Linked DNA regions of Homo sapiens: region 2 is linked to region 1. Evidence: fine-mapped expression QTL. A gene starts in region 1. The other region holds a variant in brackets. All regions are shown on one strand. Distances are between the middles of the regions.

Region 1 (5,380 bases):
AAATGTTGCCACAAGAGGGGTGCCACTGCTTCTAAATCTGCAAGAGAATCAGAGGTTAACATAATATCATCAACGTAATGGAACAAGTGGACTCCCTTTGGACATTTTCAGGCTGTTAAATCCATGGCAACAAGACCATGACATATGGTGGAGCTATGCACATAGCCCTGCAGCAACACTGTGAAAGTCCATTGTCATCAAGGCAAACTGTTCCTGGCTCTCTAGAGCAAGGTCAACTGAGAAGAATGCATTGGCCAAGTCCACCACATAGTGGTACTGTCCTAATTCCATTGTCGAGTGGTTCATCAAATCCATGATAGATGGCACAGCTTCCAAGCCATGTAAAATATCCACCTCCAGAATGTATTCAGGTATGGGAGAGACATACACAGTGTATAAGCAAGGAGCCAAGTGGCCAATGCCAAGGTACAGAGATACAGGTTTCACTTTCACTGACTGGCCTCCGTAACCTTTAATATATGCAGATTTGCCCAAAAACTTAACTGGGTTCCCATAAACAAGGCTACAATCTATGCCAGTATCTACCAGCACCAGCACCCACTGTACATTGGTGGGGGACCAGTGGATTGCCAATTCCACATGTGGCCTCTGGTCATCTGGTGTCCCCCCAAGCCAGACACCTTTGGCCAGTTCCCTAGTTGAACAGAAAAGGCTCTACATTTCCACCTGGCTGCAGCAAGTAGTCTCTGAGCTGGGTAGGACCAGGTCACACAGCAATGCCTTTCTCCCCTTTGGGCATTTTCCGGAATTGCTGCCCTGCATACAACTGTCTCCGCAAAGTTAGGAGTATTTCATTGGGCTGCTTATCAATTTTCTCTCAGTCAACCCCAGCCAAAATCAAATCTATCCACATCTGTGAGCGTGTCACTCGTTGGGGCCCCCTTTTTTTATGGGGGAGCCCCCTGTGGGTGGGGTAACTTCCCCTTCTTTATGGTGTGGACCCTCCAATCCCCCTGAAGGCCTTCTGCTTCCCTGAGAGCCGCCATGGCAGTGGTTACTTCATGTATGCGGTGCCCTACGTATGGGGTGAGGACAGCAGCTAGGGAGCCAAAGGGGCTCAGGAGCATCAAACCCAACATGAGATCCCTCATGTGGGAGGTGAAACATTTATCATCTGGCCCTCAGGTATTCAGGACAAACATAGCCTGCCGCATACCCATCTCCCGAATGACTTACACCAAATTGGCATATGACTGCCATTTACTCACAGTTTTGGGCATTTCACCAGCATTATTCCACACAGTTCATATGGCTGCCTGTAGCCACTCAGTCAGGGTGTGGTCTCCTTGCGCTGCCACTAACCACCTGCTCACTTGCAGCCGCTGACAGAGAGAGGGGTGAGTCATGGTGGAGGCCAGCTTGTCCATCTCAGAGGTGGAATGGGAGATACCATCTGCTCCCTTGTTCCACAGACGAAGCATCCAGGCAGGCAGGGGTTCCCCTGGACACTGGCAACACTGCTTGCCTAATTCCTGCAACTCAGTTGGGGTACAGGCAATATACGAAATGTGTTGCATTATGGTGGGGAGTCCCTGAGTCCACCCTTGGAGCCCCAGTGGCTGTTCATGATCTACCTTCTGTCAGACCACCGGGTGAGCCCGCAACAGGGGTTCTTCCTCCTTGGTATGAAACTGAGTGGGGATCTCCAGACAAGATGATGGACCCAGGCCTGCATTCATGGTAGCCTCTAATTCCTTTTCCAAGCTCTGAAGCCACACCTCCAGGCATCCTGCCTGCACCTGGAGGTCCCCATTCATGGCAGCCTCTAATTATTTTCCAGATCGGTGTAGCCAGACCTCCAGTCTGCATCCCTCAGGGACTGGGTGTGTACTTTTCTTAGCACAGTTAAAAATGCCCATCCAACTCTGCCAGCAAAGGCTCTCTCCTTCTTGGTGCTCTGCACTTCCAGCTGCTTCAGCGCCTTCTCCATGCTCATGGGGGACCCATCTACTGCCACCCAGGTTTCCACTCAGGCCCACCCTCACAGCACGGCTACCACCGGGTACCACAACCCATGTTGTGGTCACATGGCCAACCTGGAATCAGCAGGGACCGAAGGCTCACTTACCTTAGGATCCTGTTCGTGATGCCAATTGTCAGGTTCTAGCCCAAACTAAAGTCCAAGGGGAGTTGGTGGGTGGGTGGCAGGTAACTGGAAAAACACTCGAGTAGGCGGTTTCGACATGGCTTTATTCTCTCTCTGGGTGCAAGCCATATGTAGTGTCAGCAGGGTAATTTTACCTTTTACAGACAATAGTGGCTTTGAGCCAAGCACGTGCTCATATGAGTGGTCACCTAATGCACCTCACATGGCATGGTTACATAATGTGTGGAGTTGTGTGCCTGCCTCCAAACCCACTGAGTCATGCTGCACCAGAAGGCTGCCTCGGCCTACTCCTGACTAAAGCACAACCATCTCCCTTAGAGTGGGCTAAATCTACTGCTATTTATACTATTAGAAATTTTAACACAGAAGTTTTAAATATTTACATTGTTAATTGATTTTGAAATAATAAGCCCATTACAGGTTAACATAATTAACATACTTTTATTAAAAATATCTGTATTTTTTAAAAGAAAAAAAATTAGCAACAACAGTGATCCTTGGAATCGTCCCACCTCAGCCTCCCAAGTAGCTGAGACCACAGGCGCACATCACCATGCGAGCTAATTTCTATATTTTTTGGTAGAGATGGGATCTTGCCATGCTGGCCAGGGTGGTCTCGAGCTCCTAAGCTCAAGTGATCCTCCTGCCTCGGTCTCCCAAAGTGCTGAGATTACAGGTGTGAGCCACCACTTCTGGCCAGAAGCTGGATTCTCTGTCTTGTTCTCCATCCAATCTGTTAGACTGTCAAATGCCAAATAACCTTTGGAAAATTCTACTCGTAAAATAAGGAGAGAGATAAATAACTTCTGAGTATCATCATTAAAATAGTTTGACCTCATGGACCCACTGGGTCCCATGTGGAGAATAGCTCTAAGCTAAAGAGTAGAATGGCTGGGAGGGGACATAAACATTCAGCCCATAGCTGCTGACCACAATAACACATTTTAAGTCTCTTCCTCTCCTGCTCCTTGTGATTGCAGACAGACTCAATCTGTAGGAGAGCTGTAGAGAGAACAAGCTCAAGCCCCTGATTTTGCCTACAAAGAAAGCTGAGCCCAGCAAAGTTAAGGGACTTACCCAAGGTCACACAGCCACACAGCAGAGCTGGGGCTGAGCTCCAGGTGTCCTGCTACAGAGGCCACTTCTTTCTCCCACTAGGGACTGGCCTGTGATTACTTCAGAAAACAATGGTCAGCTAACTGATTCTGAACGCCCTTTGCTGGTAAAAGCTAATCTCCTGAGGAAAAATGTATGCATTGGCTGGGCGCAGTGGCTCAAGCCTATAATTCCAGCATTTTGGGAGGTGGAGACAGGTGGATCACTTGAGGTCAGGAGTTTAAGACCAGCCTGGCAGTCATGGTGAAACCCCGTCTCTACTAAAACTACAAATATTAAGCTCGGCATGGTGGCAGGCACCTGTAATCCCAGCTACTGGAGAGACTGAGGCAGGAGAATCGCTTGAACCCAGGAGGCGGAGGTTGCAGTGAGCCGAGGTCGCACCACTGCATTCCATCCTGGGCAACAGAGTGAGATTCTGTCTCAAAAAATAATAATAGTAAAATAAAAATAAATAAAAAAATAAGTATGCATCACCTCAGGTGGTCAGTCAGCTTTCCCAAGACCCCAAAGCACACAATGTTCTTTCTGGTATGAGTGACATGGGGTTCACAGCACCACAAAGTCCATGACTTTTCCCTCAGAAGTGAATGCATGGCTAATTATTTTGTATTTTTTGTAGACATGGAGTTTTGCCATGTTGCCCACGCTGCTCTCAAATTCCTGGACTCAAGTAATCCACCCACCTCAGCTTCCCAAGGTGCTGGGATTACAGGCATGAGACACCGCATGACCTGCACCTATAGTCCCAGCTATCAGGAGGCTGAGGTGGGAGGATCACCTGAACCGGGGAAGTTGAACCTGCAGTGAACTGTGATCGCTCCGGTGCACTCCATCCTGGGCAACAGAGTGAGATCCTGCCTCAAAAAAAAAAAAAAAGTGAACACACATGCTGGGGAAGAGGCCTGCAGGCACCCCTGCCAGTTCTGCACCAGAGCACACTGTAGCAGCCCTGCTGTGATGCAGGAAGCAGCTCCAGGTCCTGCAGTCTGAAGCATGGAGCCTGAAGCCTGGAGCCCCCCATCCAATGCTGCGCCATGCTCACCAGTATCCCCCAGCATCAGCACCGAGGCACCAGCTGCAGATAAATTTCTCACCTAAAATGTTGAGAGATGTTGCTAAACTGTCCTTCTAAGGGTATGTATAATAATACGGTCCTGCCGATACTGAATAAGACTATCTGTTTCATTACATCCTCACAATACTGAATATCATTAGCAACTTGAATTTTAAATTGTGCTAATCAATGAAAATGATTGCCTAATTACTAGTGAGTTGAGGTTATTTAACATTAATACTCCTTCTGATGAAATATTTTGCATTTATCACATTTTACATAAATTCTCTCTATATAATTAGCACTAGAATGTCCGACTTGGTTTTCATTGTTCCTCACCTGTTTGGAAACACATTAAGAATGAGGGAGAGAATGGATGGGGACTCACCTAGGGATGCATGGAGCTGGTCGGCAGCCACTCTGAGGCCCTCTTAACACTTCCCCACCACACACTTAATTTCCCCTGGTTTGTCCATAGATACATCCAACAATTTTTATGTAAATAAGAAAGACTCAGCTTTCAATGGAAAATGGTAGGTTGGATTTTATGACTGAAGTGGCAAAAAGAAATAAGGGATTTTATTATGGGGGAGGTCCAAACCCTGGTGAAAAACGAAATTCATTGAAATTGTTTGAAAATTCAAGGATTAAATCAGATTATTTTGGATTCAGTAGGAATTAGATTACTTTAAAGCCCCAGGATACTTTATTCTGTAGAATGCATGGAAAGTATAGAAAAGAGAAACAAAGAGGGAAAGTCATGGCTAATAACCTGGAAGGGGTAAATAGGGAGCCAAAGGCCTGTGGGACGTAACCAACTCAGCATTCCACTGGAGGCTTTATGATCAAATAGCAAGCTATTTATCATGAATGCAGGATGTGGGCAAACTCACGACTGCTCCCACTGCCAGAAGGTTTGCTGAGGGCAATCACTTCCTGGCACCGAGCTCCTTGAGGTTATCTACTGGGACATCTGGAGAATGCAGTCTTGCAAGCCTACTCTGGACCCAGCAGCTGACCCCTTCTTCCATGCCCCTCTTCCTGCTATCTCTTTTGCCTAATAAATATGGAGGGCTGTG
Region 2 (5,380 bases), 26 kb before region 1:
GTCACAGGCAGTGGATGCCGTAGGGGTGGACTCAATAGCTCAAGCAGAACCCGGAGGAATGCAGGCAGCAAAGGGAGCCCTAAAGAACAGTGAGGAGATGTGCCAAGAAAGAGCCAAATCCGGGGGATTGGCTGTGGGAGAGAGGGCTGTGGGAGTAAGAGGAAGTGTCAGCAACGTCAAATGTTGCAGAGACATAGAGTAAGGTAAGAGTGGAAAAAACATCCATGGAACCCTGTGATGCAATCGGAATGCAGAAAGACTTTGTAACTCCTGCCTGGTCTCCTCCTCTGCCCACTCATGGCAAAGGAATACAAAGTAATGTTCCCTCCTTCCGCCTAGAAAAGCACAACTTCTGCCCCCAAGCCCTGGGCTCTCCTGAGAGGACAGGACCAGCCTCTGAAGTTGAAGGTCCTGGTTCTGCCCCCAAGCCCTGGGCTCTCCTGAGAGGACAGGACCAGCCTCTGAAGTTGAAGGTCCTGGTTTACCAGATAGGGAAGGGGCCCTTTCCAAGACCCTTTCCAGAAGGTGTGGCTGAGATGGGAACCGTGGACTCTGTGCAGATGTAGGAGCTGGCTCCAGTCAAGTGCTAGGAGGTTGTGGGTCCTGGGAAGGAAGAGGCTCTGGAGCCTCTGTGGAGACTCTGGGACTGTCCTTGGGGGAGACGTGAGCAGGAAGAAGCAGGGCCTTCACAGTCCCCAGCTTAGGGGCCTCACCACCCAGACTGAAGACCAGGACCAAACCCTTTCCTGCACAGTTACAATGTGTCATTTAATTTTACTAAAGGGAATATTTTTTAAATGAGGATGCTACTTTGTGTATTAATTTTTACCTCTATTCATAAAAGAAACGTTTCTTATCTATTTAAGATGATTCATATCAGACCAGTGTCTGCCCAACTCGACTGACCCTGTGAAAACTGGGCACTTCACACTCCAATGATGATGGATGAGTCCCCAGCAGCATAGTTTAAGGGAGTGAGTGGGCAGTGTGGCCTCCTGTGCACGTGACTTCCTCCTTCAGTGTGCCCACATGTGGGTTCCACGGTCTTGTGACATTGTGGCTTTAGAAATTTCTGTTTCCATTTTCTATCATTCAGAGTAAATGAAATTTGCAGGAAATTCAGAACCTTCCACCTGTACAGTGGATACTGTGAGACTCTGCCCAGATGCCCTTTTCAAGCCAATGCATCTCTCCATGCTCCCACTCCCATAGATGGGAACAGAGGTGCTGGAACTCAGATCTACTCCCCTTTCTGGGAACTGGAGCTGCCTGCCCAGGCAATGCCCCCTTCCCAGGGATGGCTGAGCCAATGACTGGCTAATGTTGGATTGCAGAGGCCTAGCGCCCTCCCCTCAATTCCTAATTCCTTGTAGGAATAACTGAGGCCTCCTCTGTGACCACGTGGGCAGCTTCTCCCTCTGCCTGGTCCTGTCTTGTTCTCTCCTTTCCAATTGTGTCTCCTGGAAGCCCTCCCCACAAGTCTGCTGCATACAACTCTCCTTCTCAGAGAGCCTGAGCCCTGGATTCCCAGGAATCCAGCCTAAAATAGTCTGGCATTTGGTTTCAATTTTCTCTTTCACTAAGACTCAGTCACAGGTGCTAATAAATAATAAAATGTCACCACCTTGAATTCTATCACTCTCTCTTTTCTTGCCCCATCTCTGACAAGTAGGTGGTCCCTCAAGAACCTGAAAAGCAGACATTAGGAGGAAAGGAGGAGTGGGGGCAAGAGGCCCACACCTCACCTGGCCGGCTCCCATCCATGCGCCCTTGACTGAGGTAACACCTACCCTGGGAATCCTTCCCCTGCCTCTCGTGAGCCAGGCCGGGTGCTCTTGGGACAGCTCCCACTGCTCCTGTGTGCTCCCCCAGCTTGGCACATGACTCCCTGAATTATAGTCAGTTCCGTACCTGAATCTCCCTCTAGAATGCCAGTGCCACGAGGACAGAGGACGGTTCCACTTTGTTCACTATTTTCTCCCCAGGGTCTGGCAAAGTTCCTGGGACTTGGGAGAGGTGTCCTTCAGGAGCTTGGCAGAAGCCAAACGGCACACTTAAGTAGGGCAACTGAGGTGAGTTTAATGAAGGATTCTATACAAAAATTTGGACAAGGTATAGGGAGGCCACAATACACAGTGCAGTGCCTGGTGCCAGTGAGAGCAGGGCACTATTCCCACTGCAAGGCCAGACAGGGCAAGGGGAGGGAGCTGCCTGACAAGAGCTGCCCTTACGTCAAGGGACACATCAGCCCACTAGACCCCATCAGGAGGGAGCCAGGGCCTGACTCCCCTGACCTTGCTCTCCAATCTTCTGCCTAAAATTCCCCATCAGCCAAACACAACTGAAAACTGAAAGACAGGGGAGCCTGCTGTTAATAAGGTGAGCATCCCCCAGAATAAAGCTGGGTAGAGAGTGGAGAATGGATATGGAAGGGCAAAAGGAAGATTTATAAGACAGTGGGCACTAAATATCTATGAGATGAATAAAGGAACCACATTTTACAACAAACGGTCATTGAAACGCTACTCAATGGAAAGAGATCATTTCGGTCACTGTCTGGTGCAGACAAATCAAAGCCCACATGCATCAAAAAGGCCATGTCCGTGTAACTCCGACACGGGGCAGACAGCAAGGCTGAAGCCTATGGGGTATGTGGAGCCGGAACTGAGAGATCCTGATGTAAATCTAGCACTTGGGAAAAGGGGGACTAGAAGAAATTCACCCACAGGCAGAGGAAAACACAAACACTTATCTATTTTTGCCTAGGCTTTAAGTGGTATGGGAAAAATCTCTGAGACTACAAATCCTGTGCTTCATGCACAGGTTTATAATACCCTCAAAATGGAAGACCCCAAA[AC/A]CCAGGCGCGGAAAATTCATATCAGGCCATTGATGCCCTCAATGTTCCCGGCTGAAACAAACTCAAAACTCCTCTGGAAAGGAGTGCTCCCACTTCAAGCCATGAAAAGCTACTGCAGAGAAAATAATCCCCAGTCAAGACACACTCACATTGAAACTGCAAGGCACACAAGGAAATGGATCACCTTGAGTGATAGCTGGCAGAGCTAATAAACCTCTGTATACCTCTAAGAAGCTCCACGCACTAGTATAACCCTTAAAGATTTGATGAAATCATTACTTTATTAAAATTGTTTTTATAAAAAATCAAAATCCAAAAAAAGCAACAAATTTTATACCAGAGCCAATTCGGTATATACAAGGGTGTCTTACTCTTTTGGAATTTGTCTTATTGTCCTAACTCAGCACATTGTCCTGGTCTATGAAAAGTCCTAGAAACCCTTCTACCCTCTGTAATGTAGGAGCTTTAACTCAATAGGGTTTTTTAAATTCTTTTTTCTTGTCTTTTTTTCTTTTTTAATTTTTTCCATTTTTTCAAGTCAAACTGAAGAAATATTTTTCTTTTCTTTCTAGGAATGCATATTCACCCCCCAAGGCCACTTGTCTCCTGATTGGAGAGTATTAGACAATTCTCAGGATTTCTTTATTTTCCTTCTTTATTCCATAGGATTGGGAAACCCAGTAGGATTGGGTTTAGGCATATCTCTAAAGCACCATGTTTCAACGTTTTGATGTAAGATTGTGCCCTATTTCTTGTTCAGTTGCTGCCAGCAGATGTTATAGTTTTAAAACTAGTTTTTGGTCATTGAGATATTAGAGGAGGGAAGAGTCTGCTATCCTGCTTTACTCATCTTCATCTACACTACACTGTCATCTTCACTGCAAAGTCCTGTATTAATGTTTTTAGATTCTATAACATTTTAACAGGTGTCAAAAAATCTTAAGCACCACTTCAGCTTGGGAATCTCTAAATGTAATGGTGTTTGTGGGCTGGACTGATGTCTGCGTCTTGTTGTTGTTATTGTCTGTAGTAATGGAGAGCCGGGAGATCCTGGACACTTCCTGTTCATGGGCACTTGATGCATTAGCTGCCCCAGCAGCTGATTACATTTAAACAAGGATGTGTGGGTGAACCCAGGGAGACCAATCTCAGTGGAATGGTGGGGGCAGAAGCCAGGCTGCAGGGTGTAGAGTAGGGAATGAGCAGTGATGAAGTAGAAACAGAGTTTGGACAACTAGTGAAACTGCCTGGAAGAGGGGGAGAAGAGACAGTAAATGGTCTGACCAATGTTTGAGGTCAAAGTGGGTTTGTAATCTTTATTTAAGGGACAGATCTGAGCATTTAAAAATTCTGAATAATCTAATAGAGAGGAAAAAGTTGGGACTCAAAGAAAATGTGGGAAAAAATGATGAAGGTTAAACGGAATGAGATCCAGAGTGCAGGGGGAGAGATTAGCCTTTGGTGTTAGAGGAGCAACTCTGTCCATGGAGAGAGGAAAAATGTAGACATACCACAGTTGCATTTGAAGTTGGGGCCTGAGGAGTTGAGGAGTTCTGAGAAAAGCAGAAGATGAGATCATTTCCTGAGAGTAAATGGGAGTCATTAGAACGGGGGTGAAGAGACTGGAAGCTTTAGGTAGCTTGAAATAGTTGATGGAAAAATTGGATAAAGTGACAATTTGTCACACTCAGAACAGCTATCAGGGAATCTAGAAGAATCTCTGGAAGCTAGTTGAAGATCTTAAATTACCAATGTATCTTGTCCACATAGCTAAGCGGTTTTACTTATTTTTATTTTTTTGAAACAGGGTCTCACTCTGTCACACAGGCTGGAGTGTAGTAGTAGTAGCACAATCACAGCTCAATGCAATCTCTGCCTCCCGGGCTCAAGCAATCCTCCCACCCCAGCCTCCCGGGCCTGGGACTACAGACACACACCACCACTCCCAGCTATATTTTGTACATTTGTAGAGACAGGGTCTCGCCATGTTGCCCAAGCTGGTCTTGAACTCCTGGGCTCAAGTAATCTGCCCACCTCGGCCTCCCAAAGTGCTGGGATTACAAGCTTGAGCCCGGCTGCTAAGTGGTTTTAAACAGCTGTTCTCGGAAACACACACTCAAAGAAAAAATGTAGAGGATAATTTATCTAAGGCTGGGGCTTCAAGAGAGGTCAGGGTGTTGACAAGAGAATGACTAAGTGGCAGACTACTGGATCTCAGCTAGATAAAGAGGGATGTGATCGTGGGAGGGGCTGATAGTCAGAGGCTGGAAGGCTTGATGAACAACACATATTACACAAAGAATAAATGGAGTGAGAGAAACCAAAGGAGTAAAAGTTGTCATCAGAAAAGTGAGAAATTTTATTGTGAGAATTCAGTGGTAAATCAATGTTAACAAACCTCAGCTGGGCACTAGTGGAGTGAAACCGAAGGCCAGGGAGTTGAGTTAATGAGCTGAGACTTGGGCACCAGATGGGGGTCCACATGGACAACTAAGCCACCAGGATGATGTGGGAAACTGGGGT

The links. PIP is the estimated chance that this variant, and not a neighbour inherited with it, causes the effect.
Region 2: its variant is the best candidate, but not a certain one, in a credible set for the expression of LINC02009 in whole blood (GTEx, PIP 0.74).

What each region holds. Positions count from the first base shown.
Region 1 is chr3:46,421,456-46,426,835 of GRCh38, forward strand. It overlaps LINC02009 (long intergenic non-protein coding RNA 2009), which reads right to left and starts at 2,212. Exons shown (of 5, transcript NR_151704.1): 1 at 2,090-2,212; 2 at 1,230-1,343; 3 at 1-37.
Region 2 is chr3:46,395,349-46,400,728 of GRCh38, forward strand. The region is part of intron 1 of CCR5AS (CCR5 antisense RNA); the gene reads right to left. Among named protein-coding and RNA genes, the nearest start is that of CCR5AS, 9.0 kb to the right of the region's middle. The variant AC/A (reference allele first, on the strand shown) is at 2,857.